Homo sapiens: one gene and its partners. The protein of the gene in region 4 purifies or fractionates together with the protein of the main gene of each other region. This does not show direct contact. Each region holds a gene or a part of one and is shown on either strand. Other genes may lie near its edges. The genes, in order: RPP30, SNX4, OSTM1 and INTS2.

The links.
Region 1: the proteins of INTS2 (region 4) and RPP30 fractionate together in Homo sapiens (co-fractionation; one large-scale study listed by BioGRID). This does not show direct contact.
Region 2: the proteins of INTS2 (region 4) and SNX4 fractionate together in Homo sapiens (co-fractionation; one large-scale study listed by BioGRID). This does not show direct contact.
Region 3: the proteins of INTS2 (region 4) and OSTM1 purify together in Homo sapiens (co-immunoprecipitation; one large-scale study listed by IntAct). This does not show direct contact.

What each region holds. Positions count from the first base shown.
Region 1 is NC_000010.11:90,895,727-90,903,693, reverse strand, and holds the end of RPP30 (ribonuclease P protein subunit p30), read right to left. Parts: intron 7,815-7,967; coding exon 7,777-7,814; intron 7,382-7,776; coding exon 7,302-7,381; intron 3,125-7,301; coding exon 3,015-3,124; 3' UTR 1,503-3,014; downstream 1-1,502. UniProt on the Homo sapiens protein: Component of ribonuclease P, a ribonucleoprotein complex that generates mature tRNA molecules by cleaving their 5'-ends. Also a component of the MRP ribonuclease complex, which cleaves pre-rRNA sequences.
Region 2 is NC_000003.12:125,447,883-125,455,990, forward strand, and holds part of SNX4 (sorting nexin-4), read right to left. Parts: intron 6,074-8,108; coding exon 5,928-6,073; intron 3,538-5,927; coding exon 3,423-3,537; intron 1-3,422. UniProt on the Homo sapiens protein: Involved in the regulation of endocytosis and in several stages of intracellular trafficking. Plays a role in recycling endocytosed transferrin receptor and prevent its degradation.
Region 3 is NC_000006.12:108,062,822-108,070,929, forward strand, and holds part of OSTM1 (osteopetrosis-associated transmembrane protein 1 precursor), read right to left. Parts: intron 1,479-8,108; coding exon 1,364-1,478; intron 1-1,363. UniProt on the Homo sapiens protein: Required for osteoclast and melanocyte maturation and function.
Region 4 is NC_000017.11:61,916,875-61,924,982, reverse strand, and holds part of INTS2 (integrator complex subunit 2), read left to right. Parts: coding exon 1-22; intron 23-3,155; coding exon 3,156-3,258; intron 3,259-5,469; coding exon 5,470-5,583; intron 5,584-8,108. UniProt on the Homo sapiens protein: Component of the integrator complex, a multiprotein complex that terminates RNA polymerase II (Pol II) transcription in the promoter-proximal region of genes.

The DNA of each region.
Region 1 (7,967 bases), on a different chromosome or scaffold from region 4:
AATTAAATTAGTGGTTCATTCTAACGAAAGTAAATATTAGAAGGAAACTTGCCTCTGCTATTCACTGGTGATCAGCCATCATGCCCTACTATCATGAACAATGGCATAAACATGTATGAATAGAAAGCACGCACAACTGCAAACACATACTACACAAATGTGTAGTAAATGGACGTAAGCTGAAAGGTACCTGTATTTCTACTTTTTTCCCATTTATTTCACGAGTTTTCCAAGACAGTCGTATCTGCAAATAATTTTACCTCCTTTCTATAACATGAAAATCTTACTGTATCTGGTGCAACTGTAGCTGGTACATCACTAATTCATAAATTAAGGTGGGACGTCGCAAAAAATTGAACATACATCCTGTTAAGCATTTTAAGCTTAAAATAGATAAATGTATACTTGGGTACCAACCTTTTAAAGAAGGGTCAAAGCCTGTTCTTGGGAGTATGATCTCTCTGATGAGAGATCAAAAGTTGTCTTTGTTGAATTCTAGTTCCTTTAAAGCAGAAAAGGAACTTGACATTAGTGAAGCAATCCAAGTGCAGAGTTTTTACTGATCACCCCCAAATTTGTTATCCTTCTCATATCTAATTTGACAGCAGTTCTTTGTAATGACTCTTTTCCAAACCTTTCCAAAGTGTTGACTTAGTTTTCCCGGGAATTTTTCATTTGCCCCCAATAGCTCATCAATTTTCATATTTAAAAAAATAATTTACATACAATGCTAAACACAGCTGCCTTAAACAGATTTGTGAATAAACACAGCTGACTTTTGGTGAACTTAAGCAGGGTGAAGGAAAAAAGCAAACTGGCACACAAGGAAGTGGCAGACTTTTGGTGTGTGGCCTCAGCAGCACCAGCCTCAGTTTTACAGAAGGAATGAGTAGGTTAATCCATCAAATTGGCCAAGCGGTAGTCAAAAATGCTTTTGGAGCCATCACATTTAATATACACAAAAAACAGACACATATGAACATATATATGTATGCATACAATATTATTCTACTTTAATTTTGCCATGGGTTTTTATTGTTGTCATTTTAAAAATCAGGAGTGGATTTAACTTTATTAAATGTCTTTCTGGCATCTATTAAAAATATTCTGATTTTTCTCTTTTGACCTATGAATATGATAAAGGATACTGCATTAAAAAGAACTGGAAGGCCGGGTATGGTGGCTCATGCCTGTGCCTGTAATCCCAGCACTTTGGGATGCTGAGGCGGACAGACTGCTTGAATCTGCCAGGAGTTTGAGACTAGCCTGGACATGGCAAAACCCCATCTCTACAAAAAAATACAAAAATTAGCTGGGATGTGGTGGTGCATGCTTCTGGTCCCACTTACTTGGGAGGCTGAGGTGGGAGGATGGCTTGAGCCCAAGAGGCAAAGGTTGCAGTGAGCCGAGATTGTGCCACTGCACTCCAGCCTGGGTGACAGAGTGAGACCCTGTCTCAAAAAGAAGAAGAAAAAAAGAATAAATTTCACCTGGTCATGATGCACTTTTAATGTTTTTTTAATCAATATTTTATTTAAACATTTGTATTCATTGGTGAGGTTATAAAGCTTTCTCTTTTTAAAACTGTATTTTCTCGGGCCGGGCGCAGTGGCTAACGCCTGTAATCCCAGCACTTTGGGAGGCCGAGGCGGGTGGAATATGAGGTCAGGAGATTGAGACCATCCTGGCTAACACGGTGAAACCCCGTCTCTGCTAAATACATGGCGAGCGCCTGTAGTCCCAGCTACTCAGGAGGCTGAGGCAGGAGAATGGCATGAACCCAGGAGGCGGAGCTTGCAGTGAGCAGAGATCGAGCCACTGCACTCCAGCCTGGGGGACAGAGCGAGACTGTCTCAAAAAAAAAAAAAAAAATTGTATTTTCTCCAACCCGCAGAACAGTTGTCTTTCTCTTGCTTAAAAAAATTTCTTATTCAGTTATACCTCTGGCTCTACTCCATTGTTTTAGAGCCCTTACATTAATATTGCATAAATGCATGTATTTGCATAAAAAGCTACTTCTACTTAACATGATCCCATTATAAAAATAAATTATTTCCAAAGTTGGTTCAGTCCGATGCTTTGCTATTTTTAATACAGCTATCAGGAAAATCAATATTAGCGTTTTAGGGGTTTCTAACTAAAAGTAAGGAATCCTATTTCAAAGACCTTACGTAGGCATGAAGCAGTGAAGGAAGAGACCAGATGTAATTTTACATGTGTATCCTCTCTCCTTCCACAAATTCTATAGCAATTTCTTAGAAAAAAATGCTGATTTGAATACATGAAAGAAGCTTAAAACAAGAGGAACTAAAGTCACTTCTTCAATATAAGTTTGAATATCTTCAAAATAACTACTATTTGAGTATGAACAAGAAACTTTCGAAAGAAGCTCTTAAAATATTCAAACATCTGGCTGCATGTGGTGGCTCATGTAATCCCAGCACTTTAGGAGGCCAAAGCGGGAGGATGGCTTGATCCTAGGAGTTTGAGACCAGCCTCAGCAACATAGTGAGACCATGTCTCTACAAGGGAAAAAAAAAAAAAAAAAAAAAATAGCCAGGTGTGGTAGTGCACACCTGTAGTTCCCGCTGCTTGAGAGGCTGAAGCGGGAGGATCACTTGAGCCCAGGATTGAGGTTGCAGTGAGCTGTGATTATGCCACTGTACTCCAGCCTGAGCAACAAAGACCCTATCTCAAAAACAAAATGAAACAAAAATACCTGAAACATTTTATTCAAGTATATTTGCTGTTGTTTATCACTTACACAAAGGAGAAATAACCAGTCTTTCTCTCTTAAAGTACATCTAAATTCATTAAGCTGGCAGCCTTTTAAAAAGATGCTTCACTAGGTTTCGTTTGTTGTTTTAATGGATTGCAAGTAAAACTGTTTTTATAGACTATTGATTTCTAGCTCCAAATGAAAACAGTAAATCACACAAAGGTTTTATTTTTGTTGTGGCTGATGAACTATAAAAGGGAAGAAGGGAGTGCTGACAGAGACTGGGGCATTCTTTTCAGCCCTCACACTTGGCTTTCTTGGAAGCTGGAAGACAATCTTCATCTCCTTCTGATGGCCGAGGTTTCTTCACTGTAGAGATAATTCCAAAAGCAGTTTTTCTAGTTTCTGTAAAACAAACAGGGAAACCACTGTGCTTGAAGTTAAGACATAATTTAAAATGAGGTGGTTTAACATATTACTTTGGCTTACAGCAATAGCAAATGATAAGCCATAATGAACTGCTATGGCTGCTAGTGCCATTTACCGTCATTATCTTTTTTTCCCAACAGACACAAATATCAGTATATTATTAACATCTAATTCATTCCTAAAGATTACCTCATGGGTAAAACTGCAGGACAGTGTTATCTCTAATGGTCTGTCCATGGCATCTTATGTAGCCAGAACCCAGTCACAGACATTGATGTAGCAGACACTTTATATATGGTAGACAGACAAATCAAGAGAGCAAACACAGCAATCAAGTGTATGGCTCCCATGTGGAGCACATGCTTGCCTCATTTTACAGCATGTACCCTATCTCTCTTATTAGAACATCAAGGTACCTCTGAAGAATCAATTGCATTATATTGCCAACACTCAACAATGGCCTGGTTATGCAAAATGTGTTCAGTAAATACTAGTTGAGTTAATGAATAAAATCACTCATAAATTTATTGATCTCTTTAACTGGTGACAATGAACAAAGAATAAATAGAAATTATTAAATGCTTAGATTAGGCTGGCAGCAGAGTTCAACTTAAATTTAACCAATTTTTCCTAGAAACCTACTAATAGGCTAGGCACTGTGTCCATACAGAGGGTATTAAGATTCCTAACAGACAGTGCTTTTCCCTATACTACATGCATGCGAGAAGCACAATAAGAGCAAATATAATAGGAATGGAGGCATCCACAAGAATTAACTGCCTGGTTAAAGCAATGAGGTATTATATAAAGGTGACACTACTCAGAATAGGGTAAACGGAGTAAGAAAAAGAGAAATATTCCTTTACAAAGGCATGGAGAGAAAGATAAGAAGAACCTAGGTAAAATAGTTTAGGGGACAATATGGCTGATGTGAAGTAGGAATACAAAAAAATTAGGAGAAAATAGAGTTTGGAAGGGTAACTTATGAAAGGCCATAGTGTCATGAAAACAGACCCAAACTCTGTCCTTAGAAATGGAAAGGGATTATGGAGAAAGAGAGAGATACCCATTAGCTACAAAGGTGGCAGAATCAAAAGAACTTGAACAGAAATTTAGCTATGAATTATTCCTTATTTCAAGTAATAAACGTAAAGTCAACCATAAAGTGTTAAGCATTATTTTCCCATTTATCAAGATTAACTTAGTAAATCTACTCTGCCAATTATTTTAAAACACTTTTATTTGTAAAAGGGATAAAACTGCTCTCAAGGTCATTAAAATGCCAACATAATAAGAACCTCAAAATAAAAACTGTCAATGATTTCCATTTCACCAAATGAAAAACGTCACACTTATAGCTATTAATTTATGTCACTGATTCTGTACCCATAGTCTAAAAATCAACTGAAATATAAACATTATGAAAATCAGCACTTTTTAACAAAATGCATTAATTTCTTTAGTGTCTTTTAAAAATAAATGCATTTCTTGGTAACAGCAAGACGTTACATTTGTGTATGCTTTAGTTTATAAAATGTTTTCACATATAGTATTTCCTTTAATCATCTTGCCAAGGAAAATCTAAAGGATTATCTACGAGTGAATAATTTTGTTCACAAGGGGCTAAGGCAGGTGTCCCCAACAGGTTCATTTTGGTCCAGGGGCTGATTGAGGGCATGAACTTTATCAATCACAGGCCAAAGACCCTGACCTTGGGCCTCTTTCCTCTGTCCTTTCCCCACAACCTCCTCAGAATTGCTATTCATTGGTTTCTAGATTTCTGGACCCCCAAAGAACCTAATTCTGATTTCCTGTGGCAAGCCTTCCAAGTTGAAAGCTAACTACCATGTGTCCCAACTCTTCTGCTTGCCAGGTATCCATGTCTGCACCACCCTCGTGATTCCTCTCATCATGAGGCTTCCAGACCCTTTAAGGACTGAGTAGACATTTTCCAATAGTGTTTCAGTGCACTGCTGTCCTTCTTAAATGTGGCACTCAGAATGATACAGATGCCGGCTGAGATTTCATCAATGAGAGTATAATAACGAGGCTTTGAATTTCCTTGTCTCAGAATCCTTTATTTCTTCTAATATTACCTAGGCTGAATTAGCAATCTTAAGAACACATCATACTACCGTCTCATACTGATCCCAATGGCAACGAAAACCAGGGTAACCATATTTTATCATCTAGTTTAGGACTCTCTTCAGGGAATAGAAGTGCTAATAAGGTCACAGAAACAGCAGGCATAAACTAGAACTGTCCTGGGTACACTGGGGTGAATGGTAATGCCACCCAAAGTTCACAAGTCTTCTTTAAGTTTAGCTTCTATAAAAGCCTGATTTTAGACACAGAAAGACAAACATCACATGTTCTCACTTGTTTGTGGGATCTAAAAATCAAAGCAACTGAACTCCTGGAGACAGAAAGTAGAAGGATGGTTACCAGAGGCTGGGAAGGGTAGTGGGGGGCTGAGAGGGAGGTGAAGATGGTTAATGGGTACAAAAAAAATAGAATGAACAAGGTCTAGTATATGATAGCACAAGAGGGTGACCATAGTCAATACAATTTAATTGTATATTTAAAAATAACTAAAAAAGCATAATTGGATTGTTTATAACACAAGACATATGCTTGAGGGGATGGACACCCCATTTTCCATGATGTAATTATTATGCATTGCATGCCTATATCAAAATATCTCAGTACCCCATAAATATATACACATACTATGTACCCACAAAAAGAAATTCTAAAAAAAAATACTTTACATATTATGTGTTATATGCTGAATAGCTGAGTTCTTAAAGTCAAATGCAGGACTTCCTATTTTCCTATATATAAAATTATGTATGTATTTATATTTTAGTTTCTGTTTCTTGTTTAGTCCATTTTGGAACCCCAACTGTTACTCAAAATCCTGATGAATGTTTATTTAAAATAGATCAAAATAATGACAGAACTATCAAAGTGTGAACCAACTGTTCCCTAATTTCAAGAAAATCATTATTCAAAATCTCCATTAATTTGACCACTCCCAAAGCTTATGTGATGAGTTCTAGGCTACATAATACAAAAATCTCAAACTAAAAATGTTGAAACTAAAAGCAAAATCATCTAATTTACGGCAAGCCAATACATAAGCAGTTCTCTCAAGTGGAAATCAGATCAATAAAGCCCAACACACAAGCCCTCAATAACCTAGCTATTCATATGACAAATAACTCAGTCTATATGTAGCAATCTACTTTGAAGTTTAAAATTCACTTGGGTGATATCAATGAAATTGCTTCTTAACCACTACAACTAGTCCTAAGAATTATAAAGATAACGAAGACAAAACAGTGATCAAAAGCTTAAATTGTTTTAATAAAATTTCACTTTCATTTTCCAAAGTTTCAGCATACTTTCAATTTTTAACATCTGATGAGCAGGAAACTCAGTCAGTGAAAAGGTACATATACAAAATGTGAGTAAAAAATGTACAGTCTGGCCGGGCATGGTGGCTCATGTCTGTAATCCTAGCACTTTGGGAGGCTGAGGTAGGAGGATTGCTTGAGCCCAGGAGTTCAAGACCAGCCTGGGCAACATAGTGAGACTCTGTCTCTATTTAGAAAAAGAAAAAAAAATAAAAAAGGTACAGTCTGGACACAACTTGACCATGTAAGCAAACATGAGAAAAGAAACATTCTGAGTTATAATAAATGTAAAAGTTACAGTCTATGTTTTGTTAGTTGGATTTTTAAAAATGTATTTGCTGGTTTTGTTTTCCTAATAAATAGTTTAACACATATTTTTAACATATCCGTTCTCTAAAACAGAGATTTTCAACAGGGAAAGCATGGCCTTCTGGTGAGGGAGAAGAAGGAAGGGAGATTAGAAGCCTATCAAAATGTCGGCAGGAGCACACATGTATAGCTGGAAGAACTATTCAATACTTATTTCTGTAATGAAAACTATATTCATTCTACAAACTTTAGAAAGTAAAGCCTGAAGTGAGGGTGAGAAAACACTGATGACTGTGTTTAGAACAGGTTGAGAAAAGATGATCCCAAAGGAACTCTGTAGGGTAGGGCAATAAAAATAGGTATGGCTGTAAAAATGACTTGCTTTTAACATGACCATTCAGTTTGTACTGGAAGAACTTGCTTACCTCCATGGAGAAGCGCTGCTCGGCAGTTGGTGGACACCGCAGCCTTGGCGTCACTTTCAGAGAGCCCAAACAGCAAGCCTCTTGGGGGAGCATTAAAGATTTCAACCCAGAGTCACCCAAGGACACGAGACTAACACAAACATAACAGAAAGTGCCAGCTAACCTGGTCATCTTGAGAGGCTAATTAATTCAACAGCAGTTCTTAGTCCAACTGGAACATGCATCTGAGAAAAGACTCATTTAACTCTAAGCTTTTATCATATGAAGTCCCTCATTCCCTCTTTTCTATCTCATGATTAATTAAAAAACAGAAGCATAAAGCTCTCTATAATGTTATATAATTTATTTTTGAAGTTATTAATTGGTAAACTTACAGTAAAAGGTTGAGAAAAATACATGTTCAACTATAATACGACTTCAAATTCAAAATTTCCTGAAAGACAATGTCAACAACTTTTTACTCAGAAAAGGATACAGATTTGCCACGTCATATGGCCCTCTTATTTCTAAAGGCTGAAATAAAATGAACAAAGAGTAGATATGAGAAAATTATTTATAACATTTCAATGACTTATAGCAAATTAATAGAAAATTTAAGTATCCAAAAATAAAAAAATTACATAAATTTAAGTCCTTATAATTTTGATGGGTTTCATAGCTTTTGAA
Region 2 (8,108 bases), on a different chromosome or scaffold from region 4:
AGTACTTGGCTTAGTGGTACACTAAGTTTTGCTTTTTGGAATAATTAAGAAGTCGAGAAAATATGACACTATTTTGGGAAGTGGCTAATATAAGCAAATGTCTAATGCTTCTGAAAAGAGAAACAGAATCTCTAATACGAACTTATCTTCAAAATGGAAAAAGAACTCCTACAACTTGTTGGAAAACTGAGTTAATTCATTTCATATCACATACTCGAGTAATTTCTATTTGTAAATCAAACAAGTTTTCAGTCTTTTTTTTTTTTTGGAGATAGGGTCTCACTCTGTTACCCAGGCTGGAGTATAATCATGGCTCATTGCAGCCTTGACCTCCAGGGCTCAAGGGATCCTCCCACCTCAGCCTGCCAAGTAGCTGGGATCACAAGTGCACGCCACCACACCTGGCTTATTTTTTGTATTTTTTTTTTTTTTTGTAGAAATGGAATCTCACTATGTTACCCAGGCTGGTCTGGAATTCCTGGGCTCAAGCGACCTGCTTGCCTCTGCCTCCCAAAGTGCTGGCATCACAGGTGTGAGCCACAGTGCCCGGCTCGGTTTTTTCAATGTAATATTTGAAACAAAAAACTTCATTAGTCTAACAAATATAAATTGAGTTATTAAATTATCACTCTAATAACTAAAGTTTTGATAAAAACTAATTATGTACTAAATTACTGAATCCCTCTTAGTACCTGAAGTTACTTAGCACAGTTATAGATGGCCTAATATGCATAAGCAAAAATACATGTTTATAGAGATGTAACAGTAAAACTTAAGGGTTTTTTCCTTTTTTTTTTTTTTTTTTTTTTTTGAGACAGAGTCTTGCTCTGTCGCCCAGGCTGGAGTGCAGTGGCGCGATCTCGGCTCACTGCAAGCTCCACCTCCCGGGTTCACACCATTCTACCACCTCAGCCTCCCAAGTAGCTGGGACTACAGGCGCCTGCCACCATGCCCAGCTAATTTTTTGTATTTTTAGTAGAGATGAGATTTCACCGTGTGTTAGGCAGGATGGTGTCGATCTCCTGACCTCGTGATCCACCTGCCTTGGCCTCCCAAAATGCTGGGATTACAGGAGTGAGCCACTGTACCCGGCAAGGGTTTTTTTCAGTAAGGTATTTTTTCAATAAGATACATATTCTCCAATAATTACTCATTTATGAGAAAGGAACTTTTTAATACTTAATCATTAAAGTGTGTCATTTATTAAGGTTTTGAACAATTTTCTTTTTCTTCTCTTTTCTTTTTGAAAGAAGGTCTCGGGCCAGGTGCGGTGGCTCACACCCGTAATCCCAGCACTTTGGGAGGTGGAGGCAGGCGGATCATGAGATCAGGAGTTTGAGACCAGCCTGGCCAACATGGTGAAACCGTCTCTCCTAAAGATACAAAAAAATTAGTCAGGCATGGTGACACACACCTGTAATCCCATCTACTCGGCTGGATGAGGTAGAATTGCTTGAACACGGGAGGCGGAGGTTGTAGTGAGCTGAGATCATGCCATTGCACTCCAGCCTGGGTGACAGGGTGAGACTCTGTCTCAAAAAAAAAAAAAAGAAAGAAAGAAAGAAAGAAGGTCTCACTATGTTGCCCAGCCTAGTCTTGAACTCCTGGGATCAAGTGATCCTCCTGCCTCAACCTCCCAAATAGCTAGGATCACATATAAAAATCTATATCACTTAGGCAAGAAAACAAAACGACAAAATTGCATAGTACCATTCTTGGGAAACAAGGTGAACATAAACTCTTATTAAACTTTTTGTTTTACTAGTTATCTAAGGATTTGTGAATAAACCTACAAAATATCCAACAGTATGTCCAAATACAGCTATAGTAGTATCTTTTATATTCACAGATTAAATTTCTAGCACCCTCAACCACTGCAGCCTAAACAAAACGGAGGGGGAAAGTCCTTTGAGACATTATATAAAGGTCTTGCACTTTACTTTGGAAAGAAGTGAATGAGAGATCACAAGGAGCTTATTAATGAGTCTTTTACAGGAAAAACAAAAAAACTAAAAACCTTTGTTATCTGGTCTTTCAGATTTCTTGAGGTTAAAAAGTTAGATTGGAAAAAGGACTGTACTACTGGGTGTGGTGGCTCATGCCTATAATCCCAGCAATTTGGGAGGCCAGGGCGGGAGGACTGCTTGAGCCCAGGAGTTTAAGATCAGCCTGGGTGACACAGTAAGACCCCATTTCAACAAAAAAAGAAGAAAAAAGAAAAAGACAATGGATTGTAAATATCTAGCACCTAGCTGCAGGCAAGAAGAGGTGACAGAATGAAGGCAAAAAAAAGATAGAGATGCTACCAAACTACAACATACTCAACCTTTAGCACCTGCAGACTCAACAGTCACGATCTAAACTTGTTTTAAGTGACTCCAAAGATCCACGGTATACAGTAACTTATAATTCACTGAGCATAAATATGAATTTGTCCAAACCAAATGGAGCCCACTTAACCAGTGAGTGCGTATGGTGTTTATGCCTCAAAATATCTTTGTTCTCTCAGTGATGGCCCACAGCCAAAAAATAAAATTTTGGGACAAACTAAAGCATAAGAATTGTATATATATTTATATGAGTGTGATTTTGCCCTATAAATGTGAGAATTCATCTTACCATGTAATTTACTGAGATAATGCATGTAAAAGTGCTTGATAAATTATGACAGGTGATACAAATCAAAGCACTGGTACTGGTAGTCACACTGGCAGATCTTAGGTTATAAAAAAGAGGTTAAGGAATGTTTCCTATTTTGTTCTTAAACCAACGTTTTAGAAAGTCTTCCATCATTGTCAAACATTTATTTTAACTAGAATAAGCTTCAATGTTTGTATCTTTCACTATGGATATCAGCAACACAAATGATTTACTTTATGAGGAAGCATATCATAACCAGGTCTTCACGAAATAATGTTCAAGCTATTTTCCAATCAAAGCATATACCTGGAATGGTATTTTACTGTCTGGTCCAAGAGTACCATATGATCTAAATAATCTTGGTATATATTCTCAAATACAAGTTATAAATGGAGATACAAATTTGGACTTTAGATGAGTGGAGACTCAGTAATGGGCATACTGGTTGTAACACCAGTAGAGGCTGGACATGGTGGCTCGCACCTGTAATTGCAGCACTTTGGGAGGCCGAGGCAGGAGGACTATATGAGGCCAGGAGTTCGAGACCAGCCTGGGCAACATAGCGAGACCCCCCCATATCTATTTTTTAAATATTTAAAATTTTAAAATAAAAAAACCAAAACAAAATAAAACAGAAATCCTACAAAATTAAAATAGAGAAATTGGTAAACATTCTACAAGAGAAGAATAAAAATGAAAAATTTTTTGGTCAGGTAATTTAAATACATGTATAAGCACTTCTGAATATACATATATCTTCACTGAAACAGGAAAAACCCTACCTTTTTGCACATACTGATCTGCATGACTGCATAGCTTATGAGGGCCTCCTTTAAGTCTCGGTTCTTTTGTTCTTTGAAGCGTTCAATATCAGCCCATGCGTTTTTCACAAATTCTCTGAAATAAAAGGTATAGCCATTATTATTATTTAAGTTAAATAAACTGTGTACTAAAAAGTTAACCAGTTCTCATTGGCGTTGGTTTTTAATTGCCTATGTAGAAGGAAGAGTTATTGCTTGTATAAGACAGTTTTTTTATTTTCCTAAAAATTATAGTTAGGGAAAAAGCAAACAGACAGTCATATATTCTTGTACCTTTTAATCTACTTTTTCTTTTTTTTTTGAGACAGAGTCTCACTCTGTTGCCCAGGCTGGAGTGTAGTGGCGTGATCTTGGCTCACTGCAGCCTCTGCATTCCGGGTTTGAGCAATTCTCCTGCCTTAGCCTCCTGAGTAGCTGGGATTACAGGCACACGCCACTACGCCCAACTAATTTTTGTATTTTTAGTAGAGACAGGGTTTCACCATGTTGGCCAGGCTGGGCTTGAACACCTGAGCTCAGGTGATCTGCCCACCTCAGCCTCCCAAACTGCTGGGATTACAGCGTGAGCCGCTGCACCTGGCCTAATAATCTAAGTTTTTGCCACAAGGATTCTACCTTTAAATTATTCCTATAAAATACACATAGATGACTCCTTAAGCCAGCTCACAAACCTAACAGGTGTCAGTCACAATGAAGTAAGTGCCTTCCAGGGGTCACTGGAAAATATACACTCTTTTGACAAGATGGATTATGAATCACGTTTAGCATTTTTTTTTTTTTGAGACCAAGTCTCGCTCTGTAGCCCAGGCTGGAGTGCAGAGGCGTGATCTTGGCTCACCACAACCTCCACATCCAGGGTTCTTGCCTCAGTCTCCAGAGTAGCTGGGATTACAGGCACACGCCACTGCACTCGGCTAATTTTTTGTATTTTTAGTAGAGACAAGGTTTCACCATGTTGGCCAGGCTGGTCTTGAACTTCCGACCTCAGGCAATCCACTCTCCTAGGCCTCCCAAAGTGCTAGGATTACAGGTGTGAGCCACCACGGCCAGCTGCATGTACTTGTTTTAAATCACAACCAAAGTTTAAAAACTTTTTTAGCCAGGCTTGGTAGCCGGTAGTCCCAGTGATTCGGGAGGCTGAGATGGGAGGATCACTTGAGCCCTGGACTTTGAGGTGGCAGCGAGCAACAATGGCACCACTGCACTCCGGCCTGGGCAGCAGGGTGAGACTCCGTCTCAAAAAAATGAAAAATAATAATAAAAATTAAAATCCCGAGAGGTATTTGTTTTTGGAGACAGAGTTTCACTCTGTCGCCCAGGCTAGAGTGCAGTGGCGTGATCTCCGCTCACTGCAAGCTCCACCTCCCAGGTTCACACCATTCTCCTGCCTCAGCCTCCCGAGTAGCTGGGACTGTAGGCGCCTGCCACCGCGCTCGGCTAATTTTTTTGGTTTTTAGTAGAGACAGGGTTTCAGCATGTTAGCCAGGATGGTCTCAAACTCCTGACCTCATGATCCACCCACCTCAGCCTCCCAAAGTGCTGGGATTACAGGCATGAGCTACCGCGCCCGGCCTGTCTTTTTTAATTCTATCTATTACTTTGCCATATTTGGTGCTAGTAGTTCTAAAAATGAACAAAACCACCTCAAAACCCAAAATACACTCTTGGTCTGCCTTGGTCTATTCACTGACTGTCAGATGAAAACAAAAATAAGAAAAATGAGTCAAACAGTGATAGTGGGTCTCTGAGAACTGAATTTCTAGAAATACTTATGTAACAATTACATGCTAAGCCCTATGTAAGGCACTGGGATGTGAATGTGGAAAAGATACAATCACTGACTTTGAAGGGCTTAAATTTAGCCAGGGATAGTCACACAGAACAATCAATCATCTAATACAAAACTGCCATACCATACTGGCATGAATTAAATGCCGTGATAGCCTGAGAAGGCTTCACAATGAAGTAACACTTCAGCTGGGTACTGAAGGAGGGGAGGGGAGAAGAAATGGTGGAGGGAAAGTACAAAGGGTAGAAATCAGGAATAGTGCAGGAAAATAATATTATGAAGTTGAAACTTTTATTTCTCTTTCCCCCACATTGAAACAACTGTTTCTATAACATTATTTTTGATAATTCAACTTTCTTTTATTTTTATTTATTTATTTATTTATTTATTTATTTCTGTAGAGACAGGGTCTTCCTACGTTGCCCAGGCTGGTCTCAAACTCCCAGGCTCAAGCAATCCTCCCACCTCAGCCTCCTAAAGTGTCAGGATTACAGGCGTGAGCCACCACACCCAGCGTGATAACTCAAATTTCTTAGGAATGCATTTTAAAGGAATAGGCTGTATTCAGGGATGCCAATGAAGCTGGGAATTGTTACCAAAATAAATAAATAAATAAATAAAATAATCTACCATATAGTCTACAAGCCTAGCTTACTTAAACATCGCAGCATCTTTACCTGCCTTCCAGATTTTTAGACTTTAGCTGTTGTTCTCCTTCATTTATTTGTTCTTCTAGCACCTTTATTCTGGCTTCTCTCTGCTCTGGAGTTTCTTGACCAAAGAGCTTGGTAGTCATTCCCTTCAAAGAGAATGTTCTCACAGTCTAAAAGGAAACAGAAACAGATGAATGGATAAACAAAATGCGGCATACACATACACATACAATGGAACATTATTCAGCCTTTAAAAGGAATCAAATCTGATATATGCTACAACATGGATAAACCTGCAGGACATTATGCTAAGTGAAATAAGACAGATACAAAAAGACAAATACTGTATGATTCCACTTATATGAGACACCAGTGTTTACACTGTATTAGGTATTAATAATCTAGAGATAATTTAAAGCAGGGGGTCCCCAACCCCAGAGCCACGGAGTGATACCAGTCCATGGCCTGTTTGGAACCAGGCTGCATAGCAGGAGGCAAGCGACCACCTGAGCTCTGCCTCCTGTCAGATCAGCAGCAGAGGCATTAGATTCTCTTAGGAGCACGAACCCTATTGTGAACTGCGCATGTGAGGGATCCAGGTTGTGTGTTCCTTGTGAAAATCTAATGCCTGAGATGATCTGAAATGAAACAGTTTCATCCCGAAATCATCCTCAGCACCCCCTGCCCTGGTCCATGGAAAAACTGTCTTCCACAAAACAGGTCCCTAGTGCCAAAAAGGTTGGCGACTGCTGATTTAAAGTATACAAAAGGATATGCACAGGTTACATGCAAATACTACACCATTTTATAGAAGGGACTTAAGCATCTGAGGATTTTGGTATCCCAGGGATCCTTAAACCAATCTCACTGAAGATACTGAGGGATGACTGCACTACTGAACTATATACTTAAAAATGGACAAGATGGTACATTTTATGTTATATATATTTCACTACACACACAAAGGAAATAGAAAACATTTGCCATATTTCCCCTAAGTCAGACAAAACCACCATAAGCTTCACAACCAGGGATCTCTTATATGAGTTTTTATTTATTTTTACAGAGTCATAGCCAAGAATCCTAATAGAATTTCTAACACTGAAATAATATGGAGTAGTCAAAAAGAAGACACTTCTAACTGAATTTCTTTTTTTTTTTGAAATGGGGTCTTGCTCTGTTGCCCAGGCTAGAATGTAATGGCACAATCATGGCTCACTGCAGCCTCAACCTCCTGGGCTCAAGTGATCCTCCCACCTCTGCCTCCCAAGTGGCTGGGACCACAGGTGCATGCCACCACACCCAGCTAATTTTTAAATTTTTGGTAAAGACAGGGTCTAGCTATATTAATCCACACTGGTCTCAAATTCCTGGGCTCAAGCAATTCTGGGTTTACGCCTCTGCTGCTAAAGGTGTCGGGATTGCCATTGTAAGCTACCATACCCGGCTTGAATTTCATAATCAAATGGAAAACTTCCACGTGAAATATTAGACGTTATTTCTTACTCTGTATGAATGATATTTTAAAAATTACTTTATGTTATAAAAAAAGTCGATAAATTCACTAGGCAACTATGGAAATAAACCAAACTAAAGAAGCATATTTAAAATCTGCATAACTCAACGCTCAAACTTGGGCATCTATTAATAAAACAGGATACCTAAATCCAAGCATGGGAAGGCAACCCCAAGCTTCACTGCTTTAACATTTCCTCACTCTCTGGAGTTTACTGAAGAAAACACTTTTCCCTTGACATGTAGGATAGAGAACCAAGCTCCCTGAAAATGGCCTGGGAACTTCTCCCACTGAGTTTTAAAAATAAACCAAGGGCCTAGTTTATACATGTGTCCTGGTCACAAGTCTTTCCCCACATATATCTGTGACTTTTCACAGATGTAGCCAGTGGGTAATCTCTGTGAAAAGCACTTTTAAAACTATAGTGCTTGGCCAGGCGCGCTGGCTCATGCCTATAATCCCAGCACTTTGGGTGGCCGAGGCGGGCGGATCACGAGGTCAGGAGATTCAGACCATCTTGGCTAACATGGTGAAACCCCGTCTGTACTAAAAGTGCAAAAAAAAAATTGGTCGGGCGTGGTGGCAGGCGCCTGTAGTCCCAGCTATTCAGGAGGCTGAGGCAGGAGAATGGTGTGAACCCAGGAGGTGGAGCTTGCAGTGAGCCACACTCTAACCTGGGCAACAGAGCG
Region 3 (8,108 bases), on a different chromosome or scaffold from region 4:
CTGGTCTATAACCCCTTCTTAATAATATGCTGATATTCTAAGCAGTATAAAAAATGTTGGCCCAAATAGTATACTACTCTGTCAGTCAAGGTCCTACTTTCCCTTGCTAACTTTACCTCCCACTATGCTTCCTGGAACATCTGTTGCCCTTTTATACCTCTGTGACTACCTGCAATGTCCTTCTCTCATTTCTACTTTTTTTTTTTTTTAAGACAGGGTCTTGCTCTGTTGCCCAGGCTGGAATGCAGTGGCACAATCATATCTCACTGCATCCTTGAATTCCTGGGCTGAAGGGATCCTCCTGCCTTAGCCTCCCAAGTGGCTAGGACTACAGTCACACACCACCATGTCCATCTAATTTAAAAAATATATATTTTTGTAGAGATGGGGGTCTCACTATGTTCCCCAGGCTGGTCTCAAACTCCTGGGCTCAAGCAATTCTGCCTTGGCTTCCCAAAGTGCTGGGATTACAGGCGTGAGCCGCCTCACTGGCGTCATCTCTACTTATTGAAATCATGTCCAATAGTACAGGCCTAGGTTCAAAAGGTAGCTCCTCCAGGAAGTCATTTCAAATTCTCCCCAGTAAGATTTATTTTCTTCTTCCTCCAAGGACTCTATAACTTTATTAAAGCATTTATGTGTCTGTCCTAGGCTGTATTTGTAAATATATCTTTCTCACTCATTAAATTATAAGACTTGAAAAATAAGAACTGCCTAGCACATAGTTGGTATTCAAAACATCATCTGAATTGGAAGTGATTTTAATTTTTCCAAAGAATATCTAAAAATAGATCTTATTTTATTACACAATTACACACAAACCTGCAAAGAAGGTAGAACAGATGTCATCATCCCACCCCGCCGCCTGCCACACACCACTTGACAGATTACTGTAAACATCATAATTATTATTATACTAAACAGTTAACATTTCTTGAACACTAAATACGTGTCAGGCATTGAGCTAAGTGCTTTACACAATTTATTTCATTTCATTCTCAAGGCGACTATATAAGATAGGTTCTATCATTACCACCAATTTACAGATGAAGAAACTGAACTTCCAAGAGGCAAAGTTTTTCTCCCATATCTGACAGCTAGTAGGTTAGGGCTAGTAAGTGGCAGAGCTTAGAATCAAACCCAAGTCTATCTAAATCCAAAGCTCATAGTAACTGCTACACTTTTCTGCCTTTCGCTATTTGCTCAGTTGCCATTAATAAACCATGGTGTCCATGACAGTTTATTTAAACTTAGCAATAAAAAGTATTATCCAGCTTCAAAGATCCCAAAATTCACTAAAATAAAATCTGACATCTGTACTACTGAACCATAACTGCAACATGAAAATGAAAGAATTACTTACTTGCACAATTTGCCTCCTGCCATGTGGTATTAAAAAATTCTGAGAGAATCACAACTATTTGCATTCTATCTGCCATTAAGAGACTTCTGGCACAACTCTGACTCTCTGAAGTATTCTGTAACAAAAAGAAGACAGAAAAATACAATCTGAGTATTTTCAGACTTTGCAAACAACTTGAGGCAAAAACCTTACAAAAATAACATTTATTATAAGCTTTTTAACATTTTGTTTGATATGATCAGATGTTAACATTAATAAAAACAATGATAATAAAGTAATTAGCAGCTAACATTTATTGGTACTAGGTTCACTTGCAAAGGAAGAAAATCTTTGTTATCTAAATAGTTTGTACCCAGATGGAAAAATATGCTTTTGTAGATCATTTTAATAATGAAAGAAACTCATGCTATGCAAATAATAAATCCAAGTTCCCAAATCATTTGATCCTTATCTATTTCCTTTCCTTCGTGCCCCAAGCAAGGAACTAAGTCCTGCTGACCCTTAATTCTTTCAAAGTTATTTAACTCCTACTATTTACTAGGCACTATAAAAATCCTGAAGTTCTGAGGATATAAAAAGTATAAAAGAATGCCATCAATTCTGGGGCTTTGAGAACCTCTCGCAGTTACACAGACAAGGAGTTATACAGTGTGATGAATAATAAAAGAGTGGTAACTCCTGGGAAACAAATGGTCAGTCATGTGGGAGAAGAAATGGAAAAAAGGAGAAAAGAGGGAGAAAAGGAAGAATTTCTGCTTTAAAATATAAAATCCAAGCGATTCTCATGCCACAGCCTCCCAGGTAGCTGGGACTACAGGCACATGCCACCACACCCAGCTAATTTTTGTGTTTGTAGTAGAGACGGGGTTTCACTATGTTGGCCAGGCTGATCTTGAACTCCTGAACTCAAATGATCCATCCACCTCGGCCTCCCAAAGTGCTGGGATTATAGGCATGAGCCACTGCACCTGGCCATGAACAGAACATTTTAAAACTCTTTTTTAGAATTACCTTCTGAGCAATACCAGCCATAGAAGAAAATTTTCTATTATCACTTTTTTTTTTTTTTTTTTGAGATGGAGTCTCACTCTATCGCCCAGGCTGGAGTGCAGTGACGCAATCTCAGCTCACTGCAACATCTGCCTCCTGGGTTCAAGCGATCCTCCTGCCTTAGCCGCCCGAGCAGCTGGGACTACAGGCACATGCCACCATGCTTGGCTAATTTTTATTTTTAGTACAGACGGGGTTTCACCATGTTGGCCTGACTGGTCTCGAACTCCTGACCTCAGACGATCCACCTGCCTCGGCCTCCCAAAGTGCTGGGATTACAGGCATGAGCCACCATGCCTGGCCTATTATCACTTCTTAAGTAGAAGTAATAATATTGTATTAATACAAGCCTGGGTCACTAGCTAGTGACCTTGGGCAGCTGACCCAACCTCGCTAAGGTTCAGTTTCAAAATCAGGGGTCCTACAGTTACTGTATTAAATGAAATAGCATACATTAATCACTCAGCACACTGTCTGGCACACAGTGACTGATATATGCTATTTCACCTAGCTACCATGCTGCCAACCTGAAGTGCTCTAAGTAGGTTTAGTTGGATAAGTGTCATTAGTTGGTTAAGTTGAATCTTCATAAGTGGGTGACTGGCTATTTTAAAAATCAATACAGTAGAGCCTGTATGAGTGTTCAATGTGTGGAACAGTTCGGTTCAGGAAGATATCAATGTAGTTTTGAGAAATTAGGAAAGAGTTCATGAAGGAAGCAGGATATGAACTAAGCCCTATATTGAGGAAGAGAAGAGGATTCGAAAATAGAAGAATTAAATGATCATGGGGTGAAAGTGATAATGATTATGTGGTATTCGGAGAGTATTCAGTAGTCTATGAAAGTAGGGCTATTAAAGGGCTAAGTTAGAACAAGGTTATGAGAGGCCGTGAGGGTCATGAGAGTTAGCCAGTGAGAAATTCTTTAAGATTTATGAGGAGGGTGTCATGAAAAGCAGTTTGAGGAATACATCTTTAGGCCGTGATATGTAGGGTGAGGAGGCAGGGAGACTCATTACACTACTTCCATAGATCAGGTATAATGAAAGGATGATGGCAACAGTGAGGACAGAAAGGAAATGATTAATAATCCAAACGATGATGAGGTACTTACTACTTACCAGTTCCAAATGTTCCAACTTCCTTATTTAATCCTCATAACAACTCTATGAAATAGGTAGTGTTAGCTGGGTAGAGGGTAAACTATCAGAGGTGACTGAGAAGGAAGAATTGGAGAGATAAAGAAAAATAAGGAGAGCATGATGTCCTGTAAATCAAGGAAAAGGGAAGGGGTGGTTATTTGTGTCAAATCCTGCTGAGAGAACTGGAGGTACATCTGTCAACACTGGCAGTATTGGTGACACTAACAAGAATGAATTTGATGGAGTCCTTGAGTGTGAAAGTGAGATCAGAGTGGGTTGAACAGGGAATGGAAGATGAGGACATGGGAAGAGTGAACCTAGACAACTGCTGAAGAGTTTGGCCTTGATGGGGAGATAAGAAAGAGAGGTCACTAAAGAGCAATGTGGGACCCATGCGTCATTACCCTGATGCATGGTTTCTTAAAGCATGATATCCACCTATATATGTTTAGGTTTCTCTTCTGGACAGATGTCCCTTTAAAATGGAAACTGTCACATCTTTGTATTCCCAACACCTCGCCAAGTGACCAAAAAATCAATGGTCCTTGCTTATACTTAGAACTCTTAATACTCAAATCTATCCTAACTACTTAGCAGAACCCTAACCATCTTGAAGCCAGCCATTTCCTTTGATCATGCCTGCACCCAGGAAGTCAGGAGCTGCTGGCAAAAAATTAACAACACAGATTAATTCCAAAGTAAATCCATAATCCCAAACCGTACTCCTCACTTTTCTGTCTGCTCATTCTCTCCTTTTTACAACCGCTATTTCAAATCCTCTCCACTCTCCCAGAAACTCTGATCTCTCTCCCACTCTTTACTCTCAAAAGAAGATCTAGCCTCCTGGATAACAGAAGCCTTCGAGCTGAAACTCTAACCTGCCTACCCCTACATGCAACCTCTCCTTCTACCCTCCCATTAAGGTGGGGAAGGCACCTGTCCTTTTCAAGGCCCATCTCTCTGAGGATGCCCTAGATCCCATCTATCCTGCCTTTTCTGGAAACTGACCTTGTCTGCTTCCCACTCCCTCCTACAGAATCTTCACTTTCTCTAAAGGACCCTTACTATCAACATTTAAACATGTCCAGCTCTCTCCCATCTTGGACAAGGAAGAAGGGAAGGCAGGACAGAGGAATGGAGGGACAGGGGAATGGAAAGAAATGATAGAAAGTCAGCCTGGCACCGTGGCTCACGCCTGTATCCCAATACTTTGGGAGGCCGAGGCAGGCAGATCACCTAAGGTCAGGAGTTCGAGACCAGTCCAGCCAACCTGGTGAAACCCCATCTCTACTAAAAGTATAAAATTAGCTGGGTGTGGTGGTGCACACCCATAGTCCCAGCTACTCAGGAGGCTGAGGCTGGAGAATCGCTTGAACCTGGGATGGTGGAGGTTGCAGTGAGCCGAGATTGTGCCATGCACTCCAGCTTGGTTGACAGAGCGAGCCTCTGTCTAAAAAAAAAAAAAAAAAAAAAAATAGAGAAAGAGAAATGAAAGAAAGTCTCTGAGTCCCACATTGCTCTTTAGTGACTTCTCTTTCTTATCTCCCCATCAAGGCCAAACTCTTCAGCAGTTGTCTAGGTTCACTCTTCCCATGTCCTCATCTTCCAATCCCTGTTCAACCCACTCTGATCTCACTTTCGTACCCAAGGACTCCATCAAATTCACTCTTGTTAGTGTCACCAATACTGCCAGTGTTGACAGATATATCTCCAATTCTCTCAGCAGGATTTGACACAAATAACCACCCCTTCCCTTTTCCTTGATTTACAGGGCATCATGCTCTCCTCATTCTTCTTTATCTCTCCAATTCTTCCTTCTCAGTCACCTTTGAGAGTTTACCCTCTATTTAATCTTAAACTCTTAGTGTTCCTACTCATTCTTCAGGTATGTTCACCCATGTCATAATTTCAAATGCCATTTTTATGCCGACACTCCCAAAGGTGTTATCTCTAGTCCAGTCCTCTAGATGTGTATATTCAACCACATAGGCAATCAATATATCCACTTAGAAAGCTCATAAACACCTCAAAATCAACACGTTCAAAACTGAGTTAATGATCTTCGCCCACTAAACAGACTCCTCCCTCCAGCTCAGTAAATGACAACCCTATTCATTAAGCTGCTCTTATTAAAACCCTGGAAATCATCACTACCTTTTCCTTACTCCCCACATTCAATTAACCTCCAAGCCTGTAATTTCTGCCTCCTAAGTATCTCTGAAATCCACCCATTTCTCCACATCATGATGGCCCCCACATAGCCTAGACACCACTGTCTCTCACACCACTGCAACAGTCTCCTAATTCATCTCCCCACATATCTTCTTCCCCTACCCTCCCCAGCCCCTACCCTCTCCATTTTCTGTCACATAGCCAGCATAGCCTTTTAAAGTACAAATCTGATTATGTCATTCCACAGAATTAAACCTTTCACTAACGTCATACTGCTTTAAAATCAAAGTCTAAAATCCTTAACATACCCTACAAGGCCCACATGACCTGGCACCTGTGTACTTCCTTAGGCTCAGACCACGGGTTTCCTTCTTGCTCACTGTGCTGTGTTCTAGACCTCAGATACACCACAAACTCCTTCCCATCTCAGTCTTCATGCCTGCTATTTCTTTACATGTATACCTTCCCTCCCCTGCCTGTGTTCTCTCAAATTGTAGGTGTCTGCTTTAATCACTGACCATTCTACCTACCCCCCAGTCATACTCAAGATCAGCACTCTTGTCATATGCATTGGTAGCATCTGGGTTTTTTAATCAGCAACACTTATCACACATGAATTAAATAATTATTTGTATAATGAGATGCTTAATGTCTGTCTTCAGACTACAAGCTCTGCTCATTCATGCTATATCCCTAGTAGCTACCACAACCTGTACATAATAGGTACTCAATAATTTTTTTGAATGAATGCAGAAGAAATATTACATTTTCTGATCTCTAATGAAAGACACAGATTATTACACTATGTTCTGGCTTTCTCCCTATAGTCCTCAGAATTCATTATTTAATAATCTACAGTAAAAGTATATTGAATACTCACCAAATACATAACCCAAATGACTAGCACTTCACAAAGATACACAGATACATAGATAGATAGAGATAGATAGGTAGATGGATGGATCTATAGATCTAAATTTTAAACACTATCTAAATTTTAAACAAACCAAGTAGAATAGGACAGAGCCTACCAATTCAGAATCTGAGGGGGCAAAAGCATCCTCAGGACCATTCCGATAATGCTGAATCACAATGAAACTATGTCCCTATCAGTTTAAACTAAAAGGAGAAAGTATGACTCTAAGGAAGAGGGAATCCCTCAGTTCTATCATTCAGGTTTCAGAAATCACTGTATTTTTCACCTTGAGATAATGAAACTATATGCGATCCCTCTCCCAGAAATTCTAAAAGGAAGTGACAAGAACCTAGGATTCTTATCAGGGAATTCTATTATAGTTAAACTAATTATATTGCTGTACCACATAAATAGCTTACTAGTTTCTGGCTTTGATTCTTTTTTTCTCCTTATTATACTCCTCTCCTCTCTCAATCAATCCATGTCCATTCACACTAAAGAAGGGTAGAAAGAATGCCTTGAGATTCAGCTTGTAGGTTTCCCCTGATGAACCAGCCTTGCTCTGTTCCGTCATTTTTTTTTTCTTTTTTTGAGATGGAGTCTTGCTCTGTCACCCAGGCTGGAGTGCAGTGGTGCAAACTTGGTTCACTGAAACCTCAGCCTCCCAGGCTCAAGTGATTCTCCCACCTCAGCCTCCTGAGTAGCTGGGATTACAGGCACATGCCACTACTCCTGGCTAATTTTTTATATTTTTAGTAGAGACGGGGTTTTGCCATGTTGGCTAGGCTGGTCTCAAACTCCTGGCCTCAAGCGATCCACCTGCCTCGGCTTCCCAAAGTGCTGGGATTACAGGCATGAGCCACTGCATCTGGCTCTGTTCCCTCCTTTAACTTGGCATTCCTTTCACTCTTTTGTTCTAAATTGCTATGGTACAATTTATAACACTCACTGATATTTTCCTATTTCCCCATATAAGGTATTTTATTTCCCCTAACTATACTGATAGTTTGAGGCCTGAATCTTACCCTTCTTTTCCTTCTTATCCTTTTACCAGCCCAATATTCAAGAATAGTAGGTGCTTGCTAAAAACTGATTTCAATAAAAGACTGAGTCTGAGTCAAACAAAATACATTACACTGGATAGGCTGGGCGTGGTGGCTCACGCCTGTAATCCCAGCACTCTGGGAGGCCGAGCCGGGTGGACCACCTGAGGTCAGGAGTTTGAGACCAGCCTGGCCAACATAGTGAAACCCTGTCTCTACTAAAAATACAAAAATTAGCCAGGCGTGGTGGTGGGCGCCTGTAATCCCAGCTACTTGGGAGGCTGAGGCAGGAGAATCGCTTGAACCTGGGAGGCGAAGGTTGCAGTGAGCCGAGATCCCGCCATTGCACTCCAGCCTGGGTAACAAGAGGGAAACTCCGTCTCAAAAAAAAAAAAAAAGGGCTGGGTGTGGTGGCTCACACC
Region 4 (8,108 bases):
ACTGTTGGCAATTATGAACAAGGTGCATTTCTTTTAACCACAGCTCAAAGTATGCATGATTTGATGTCTATGTATAGGGAGGTAGACAGAAAAAGAGACAAGAAGTCAGGCAGGTTGAATTCTCCTCTACTCTTATTTTGTTCTTTTTTTTTGGAGACGGAGTTTCATTCTTATTGCCCAAGCTGGAATGCAGTGGTGTGATCTCAGCTCACTGTAATCTCTGTCTCCCAGATTCAAACGGTTCTCCTGCCTCAGCTTCATGAGTAGCTGGGATTACAGGTGCCCGCCACCACGCCCAGCTAATTTTTTGTATTTTTAGTAGAAATGGGGTTTCACCATGTTGACCAGGCTGGCCAGGCTGGTCTCGAACTCCTGAACTCAGGTGATCCACCCGCCTCAGCCTCCCAAAGTGTTGGGATTACAGGCATGGGTCACCGTGCCCGGCCTTCTCTACTTTTATTTCTATATATTTGTTTTCCTTTCAAAGCCTGAAAGGATATTATAAGTCTGCCTTAAAGTCCTTCTCTTAATTATCATTTTCTCTCATTTATACTTGTTCTGCATTTTCTATGAGAGGGATTTTTTTCCGTATGGAATCCATACACAGTGGCTTCTTGACATTTAGAAAGGGATTTATCTCAAGGCTTGTACAGATTATCAAATTTATTAGCAGATAATACCTTTATGGGATACAATTTCTCCCATAAAGTGTAATGAAGTAACATTTTCAATAACTGAATGTGAATAACTGAAAAATGTATGTGATTCATTTAGACACTGGATGAGCAGTAACAGCCTCATATATGACAGCAGAGGGGAGTATCAATGCTGAATTGAATGTAGGATGATTGGCTAGTCTCAATCACTAAATGACCAAAGTGCTTCTTTACACTAATGAAAGCTATTCAAGTTATCTTCTTTGTAAAATTATAGATTACTTAGGTCATAGACCTTTGGGTAATATAGTTAATTGAAACTCTGAATTTAAAATTTTTGAATGTCAAAGTTCTATCATATAAATAACTAAATTAGCTGGGCGTGGTGGTGCACGCCTGTAATCCCAGCACTTTGGGAGGCCGAGGTGGGCGGATCACCTGAGGTTGGGAGTTCAAGACCAGCCTGACCAACATGGAGAAACCCCGTTTCTACTAAAAAATACAAAATTAGCCAGGAGTGGTGGTGCATGCCTGTAAAAGAATTGCTTGAACCTGGGAGGTGGAGGTTGTGGTGAGCCGAGATTGTGCCATTGCACTCCAGCCTAGGCAACAAGAGTAAAACTGCCTCAAAAACAACAACCACCACCACCACAAAAACCCACTAAATTAGATCTTTATGTTTATTTACTGTTATAATTTTGGGGAGTCAGTTAATTTATAGTAAATAAAGTTTAGTTTTATAAATTGTGGACAAAAAGAGAAAGGACTAAATTCTGTTTTCATAGAAAATACTGGTAGAGAGGATTTTGGTGAGTTTTAGATAGTTTTTTTTTTTTTTTTTTTTTTTTTGGAGACAGAGTCTCACTCTGTCGCCCAGGCTGGAGTGCAGTGGCACAATCTCGGCTCACTGCAAGCTCCGCCTCCCGGGTTCACACCATTCTCCTGTCTCAGCCTCCCGAGTAGCTGGGACTACAGGTGCCCGCCACCATGCCTGGCTAATCTTTTGTATTTTTAGTAGAGACGGGGTTTCACCGTGTTAGCCAGGATGGTCTCGATCTCCTGATCTCGTGATCCGCCCTCCTTGGCCTCCCAAAGTGCTGGGATTACAGGCACGAGCCACTGCGCCCGGCCGAGTTTTAGACAGTTTTTAAGGTATGTTAAAAAATTTTTCTAAAATTTCCATCACCAATTATAATTTCCTTCTCTTTTTTACTATTTTGATACTTTTATTTATTTTTGTTTGTTTTTTTGAGACAGAGTTTCGCTCTTGTTGCCCAGGTTGGAGTGCAATGGTGTGATCTTGCTCACTGCAACCTTTGCCTCCTGGGTTAAAGCGATTCTCCTGCCTCAGCCTCCTGAGTAGCTAGAATTACAGGCACCCGCCACCATGCCTGCTAATTTTTGTATTTTTAGTAGAGACGGGGTTTCACCATGTTAGCCAGGCTGGTCTCGAACTCCTGACCTCAGGTGATCCTCCCACCTCGGCCTCCCAAAGTTCTGAGATTACAGGCATGAGCCACCATGCCCAGCCTATTTTGATACTTTTAAATTTCAGCCAAGAGTTTTCCTTCATCTTTTCCGTAATACCTCACTTGGTGACTCTAATAAATAAGTGACCTTTCTCCTCTGGGAGATTTCCAATTTTTTAGTTTGGCACTCTTCATTATATAGGAAATATGGTTATGAAACTATTGTGCAGAATTTCCAAAAAGCTTAGTAGATTTTGTTATCTAAACTTTAATTCTTTGTTTTTCCAACAGTTTATTCAGAATTGAACACGTATATATATATATATATATATATATATATATATATGTTTGTTTGTTTTCTTTTTTCTTTTTCTTTTTTTTTTTTTTTTTGAGACGGAGTCTCATTCTGTCTCCCAGTGTGGAGTGCAGTGGTGCTATCTCGGCTCACTGCAGCCTCCACCTCCCGGGTTCAAGCGATTCTCCTGCCTCAGCCTCCTGAGTAGCTAAGATTACAGATGGCCACCATGCTTGGCTAATTTTTATATTTTTAGTAGAGACAGGGTTTCACCATGTTGGCCAGGCTGGTCTCGAACTCCTGACCTCAGTTGATCCACCCATCTTGGCCTTCCAAAGTGCTGGGATTACAGGCGTCAGCCACTGCACCTGGCCATGAATTTATATTTGTTAAACTGCTTTAGGTTGACTGTTCTTGGCTTTTTTAAAGCAGTTTATGTAGGCTGCATTTGTAGTTCATTTCTTTGGCTTGCCTTATCCTTTAATTCCAGTTGTCTCCAAATATTTAGATAGAAATCAGTTCTTGAGATTGATACTGCTATATCTGAATAATAATTAACATGACTGCTGTGTGTGGTTAAATTGGTTGAAATTGATTGAATACTGCATATTCTGCTGTGGTATATTAGTGATACATTAAGAGACATAATCTGTGAGCTCAAGAAATAATTATAAAAATAGGGATTTAATTATCTGAAATTAATAGAGTTTATATCTTTTTTTTTTCTTTTTTAAGGTGTCTGAGTCCAACGGAGAATTTTTTTTCAAGTCTTCTGAACTTTTTGAGAGTCCAGTATATTTGGAGGAAGCTGCAGATGTACTTTGTATTTTACAAGCAGGTACTGTACTGAGTGCTAAGATGGATTTCATATATAGTTTCTTGTTAAATGATACTGTGTAACTTCTTAGCCTGGTATGCTGTGTTATTTTAGGGATCATATAACAAACATGTTATGTGATTTTAAGTCAAAAGTGACTAATAGTTGGACAATGATTAAGTAAATTATATTATTTTCATAGTGTGACATATTATGCAGACATTAACATGGTATCTTTGATTTAATGACTTTAATGCTCGTTAATGATTTTGGAAAATGTTTACAATATGTTAAGTGAAAAAAGCAAAGGGCAAAGTGTTAAGTAGACTATAATCCCAGTTTTGTTAAAAGTTCAAGAACAATACCCTTGATGAATTAAAATAAAATACTTATTTTTTTTTAGAGACAGAGTCTTGCTCTGTTGCTCAGGCTGGAGTACAGTGGCAGGATCATAGCCCACTGGCTTGAATTCCTGGACTCAAGGGATCCTCCCACTTCAGCCTTCTGAGTAGCTGGGACTACAGGCCTGTGAAAACATTTTTTATTAACTTTGAATTCTGGGATTAGGGCAGATTTTAATTTTCTTCTTCGTACCTTTTTGTATTTTCCAGATTGTATATAATAGGTGTGAATGATAGAAATAAAAGAGGACAGAAAAATGTAAAGAAGGCTGTCGCTCATGCCTGTAATCCCAGCACTTTGGGAGGCCGAGGCAGGAGGATCACTTGAGCTCAAGAGTTCAAGACCAGTCTGGGCAACATAGTGAGACCTTGTCTCTACCAAAATGAAAAAAATTAGCCTAGTGTGGTGGTGTATACCTGTAGTCCCAGCTGCATGGGAAGCTGAGGCAGGAGGATGGCTTGAGCCTGGGAGATTGAGGCTGTAGTGAGCCATGATTGTGCCATTGCACTCTGTCCAGAGTGAGACCTTGTCTTTTTTTTTTGAGATGGAGTCTCACTCTGTCACCCAGGCTGGAGTGCAGTGGTGTGATCTCGGCTCACTGCAACCTCCGCCTCCGGGGTTCAAGTGATTCTCCTTCCTTAGCCTCCTGAGTAGCTGGGATTACAGGCATGCGGCACCATGCCCAGCTAATTTTGTATTTTTAGTGGCGACGAGGTTTCACCATGTTGGCCAGGCTGGTCTCGAATTCTTAACCTTGTGATCTGCCTGCCTCAGCTTCCCAAAATGCTGGGATTATAGGCATAAGCCACTGTGCCTGGCTGCAGACCTTTTCTTAAAAAAAAAAAAAAAAAAAAAAAGTATAGGCCAGGCACGGTGGCTCACGCCTGTAATCCCAGCATTTTGGGAGGCCGAGGTGGGTGGATCACCTGAGGTCAGGAGTTGGAGACCAGCCAGGTCAACATGGTGAAACCCTGTCTCTACTAAAAATACAAAAATTAGCCTGGTGTGGTGGCAGGCTTCTGTAATCCCAGGTATTCGGGCGGCTGAGGCAGGAGAATCGCTTGAACTCTGGAGGCGGAGGTTGCGGTGAGCTGAGATTGCGCCATTGCATTCCAGCCTGGGGGACAAAAGCGAGACTTCGTCGCAAAAAAAAAAAAAAAAAAGCAAATAAGATTTTCGTGAAAATAACTCTTTAGACCAGTTCTATAAAATAAAATTTCCTGTACTGTTCTATGCTATGCTGTCCAGTGTTCTTTGTGGCTGTGGATTACTTGAAATGTGGCTAGTGTGATTGAGGAACTGAACTGTTTTTAATATAAGTATCCTTATGTTGCTAGTGGGTATCCTACTGGACAGCTTGGTTCTAGACTATGAAAAGAAAGTACTTTATTTTAGATGACATTTGTGAAATGTCAAAAGATATTTAATAATACAATGAAATGTCATTTTTGGTTGGGCATGGTGGCTCATGCCTGTAATTCTAGGAGTTTAGGAGGCTGAGGCAGGAGGATTGCTTGAGCCCAGGAGGTTGAGGCTGCAGTGAGCTATAATCACACCACTGCACTGTAGCCTGGGCAACAAAGCAAGACCCTGTCTTAAAGAAGAAAAAAAGAAATATCACTCTTTAACACTGGGTCCAGGCATGGTGGCTTATGCCTGTAATCTTAGCACTTTGGGAGGCTGAGGCTGGAGGATCACTTGAGGCCAAAGTTTGAGACCCACCTGGGCAACACAGTGAGATTCAGTCTCCACAGAAAATAAAAAAAATTAGCTGGGTGTGGTGGAGTGCACCTGTTAACAAAGACTAACACTGACTTTGTTTTCTTGTAGAGCTCCCTTCCTTGCTCCCTATAGTTGATGTAGCTGAAGCTTTGCTACATGTTAGAAATGGTGCCTGGTTCTTGTGTCTCTTGGTGGCCAATGTTCCTGATAGTTTTAATGAAGGTAAATATGATTCTAATATGGTATATTGAAAAGACTTGCTTGGACATGTACAGGACCTATCTTTTTGACCTAAGAAGAAACATTAATGGGATTTTATTTGAGATTTTATCTTTTGAAAGTTTGTTAGTATGTATAAAGAAATATTGAGTTCACAAATTGTATTGAGTTTAAAGATCAGGCTGGGCGCAGTGGCTCACACCTGTAATCCCAGCACTTTGGGAGGCCGAGGCGGGCAGATCACAAGGTCAGAAGTTTGAGACCAGCCTGGCCACTATGGTGAAACCCCATCTCTACTAAAAATACAAAAATTAGCTGGATGTGGTGGTGGGTGCCTGTAGTCCCAGCTACTGGGGAGGCTGAGGCAGAAGAATCGCTTGAACCTGGGAGGTGGAGGTTGCAGTGAGTCGAGATCGCACCACTGCACTCCGGCCTGGGCGACAGGGCGAGACTCCGTCTCAAAAAAAAAAAAAAAAAAACCCCAAGGAACTAGAAGATGTAATATCTATAATCAGGGATCAAAGAAGATACATGTATCAGTGAAATATCAAGAGAGCAATACGGGATATGTATAATGAGAAATGCTAGGAATCAGACCTTTGTTTTTTAGCCCTACTGCTGTCAGTTTACAGAGAAGTATAAAGTAGAAATTGAGAAAAATCGACTACATTTTTTCACCTCTATTTAAAACTTACAGTGATTGAAGGTTGTTGTTTGGGTATGAGTGATATAAAAATAAAAACATTTTGTTGAGCAAGGTAGTTTGTGAATTAGGAGCCTGGGAGGAAAAAGTACTGGAGTTATAATTCCTGATTTTGTCATTCACTTATTGTGTGAGCTCTATCAAAATACTTCTCATCTGGCTGGGCACGGTGGCTCATGCCTGTAATCCCAGCACTTGGGGAGGCCGAGGTGGGTGCATCATTTCAGGCCAGGAGTTTGAGACCAGCCTGGCCAACATAGTGAAACCCCGTCTCTACTAAAAATACAAAAATTAGCTGGGCTTGGTGGTGGATGCCTGTAATCTCAGCTACTCAGGAGGCTGAGACAGGAGAATTGCTTCAATCTGTGAGGTGGAGGTTGCAGCGAGCCGATATGTGCCACTGCACTCCAGCCTGGGCAACAGAGTGAGACTCTGTCTTAAACAAACAAACAAACCAAAATACTTCTCATCTGTAAAATGGAGATATTGATAGTGTAATAGTTCCCTGACTTTTTTAAGAGATTTATTGAATATCAGATGATATGTAAAAACTCTTTGTAAACTGTGTCCTTGCCGATTTTTTGTCAACTTGTTCTGTCAATTACTGAGAGAGGAGTTTTGATGTCTCCAGACATAATTGTGGATTTGCCTATTTCTTCTTTTTGTTCTGTCAGTTTTTGCTTCATGTATTTCAAAGCTCTTTTGTTGGGTTTATATGCATTTAGGATGATTATATCTTTATGATGAATTGAGCCTTTTTTTCATTATAAAATATACTTTTTTCCCCAAGTCAAATTTGATTTCTTTATTCTTAGTTTTCACATTTATAGTTATATCCCCCTTTCTAAACATTATTTACATATTATTCAATTTGTTGTCACCTTTGTTTTAATTTTTCTTTTTAAAAAAATTCGAAGTTTTATTTTAGATTCAGGGGGGTACATGTGCAGGTTTGTTACATGGGTATATTGTATGACACTGAGGTTTGGAGTTTGAATGATCCCGTCACCCAGGTTATGAGCATAGTACCCAATAGGTAGTTTCTCAGCCCTTGTCCCCTTTCTTCCTCCCCACTGGTAGTCCCAGTGTCCATTGTTCCCATCTTTATGTCCATGTGTACCCAATGTTTAACTCCCACTTATAGTGAGAACATGTGGTATTTGGTTTTCTGTTTCTGTGTTAATTTGCCTAGGATGGGATGGCTTCCAGCTTTATCCTTGTTGCGGCAAAGGACATGATTTCATTCTTTTTAATGGCTGCATAGTATTTCATGGTATATATGTACATTTTATTTAATCCACTGTTGATGGGCACCAAGGTTGATTCCATGTCTTTGCTATTGTGAATAGTATTGGGATGAACATACAAGCGCATGTGTCTTTGGTAGAACAATTTGTTGTCCTTTGAGTATATATCCAGCAGTGAGACTGCTGGGTCGAATGGTAGTTCTGTTTTAAGTTCTTTGAGAAATCTCCAAACTGCTTTCCACAGTGGCTGAACTAATTTACATTCCCACCAACAATGTGTAAGTGTTCTCTTTTCTCCACAGCCTCGCTAGCACCTATTATTTTTTGACTTTTTAATAGCCATTCTCACTGGTGTGAGATGGCATTTCATGATTGTTTTGATTTGTGTTTCTCTGATGATTAGTGATATGGAGCATTTTTTTTCATGTTTTTTGGTTGCTTATATGTCTTCTTTTGAGAAGTATCTGTTCGTGTTCTTTCCTCACTTTTAATGGGGTGGTTTTTTGCTTGTTGAATTGTTTATGTCCTTATAGATTCTGCACATTAGGCCTTTGTCAGATACATTTTTGTCAATATTT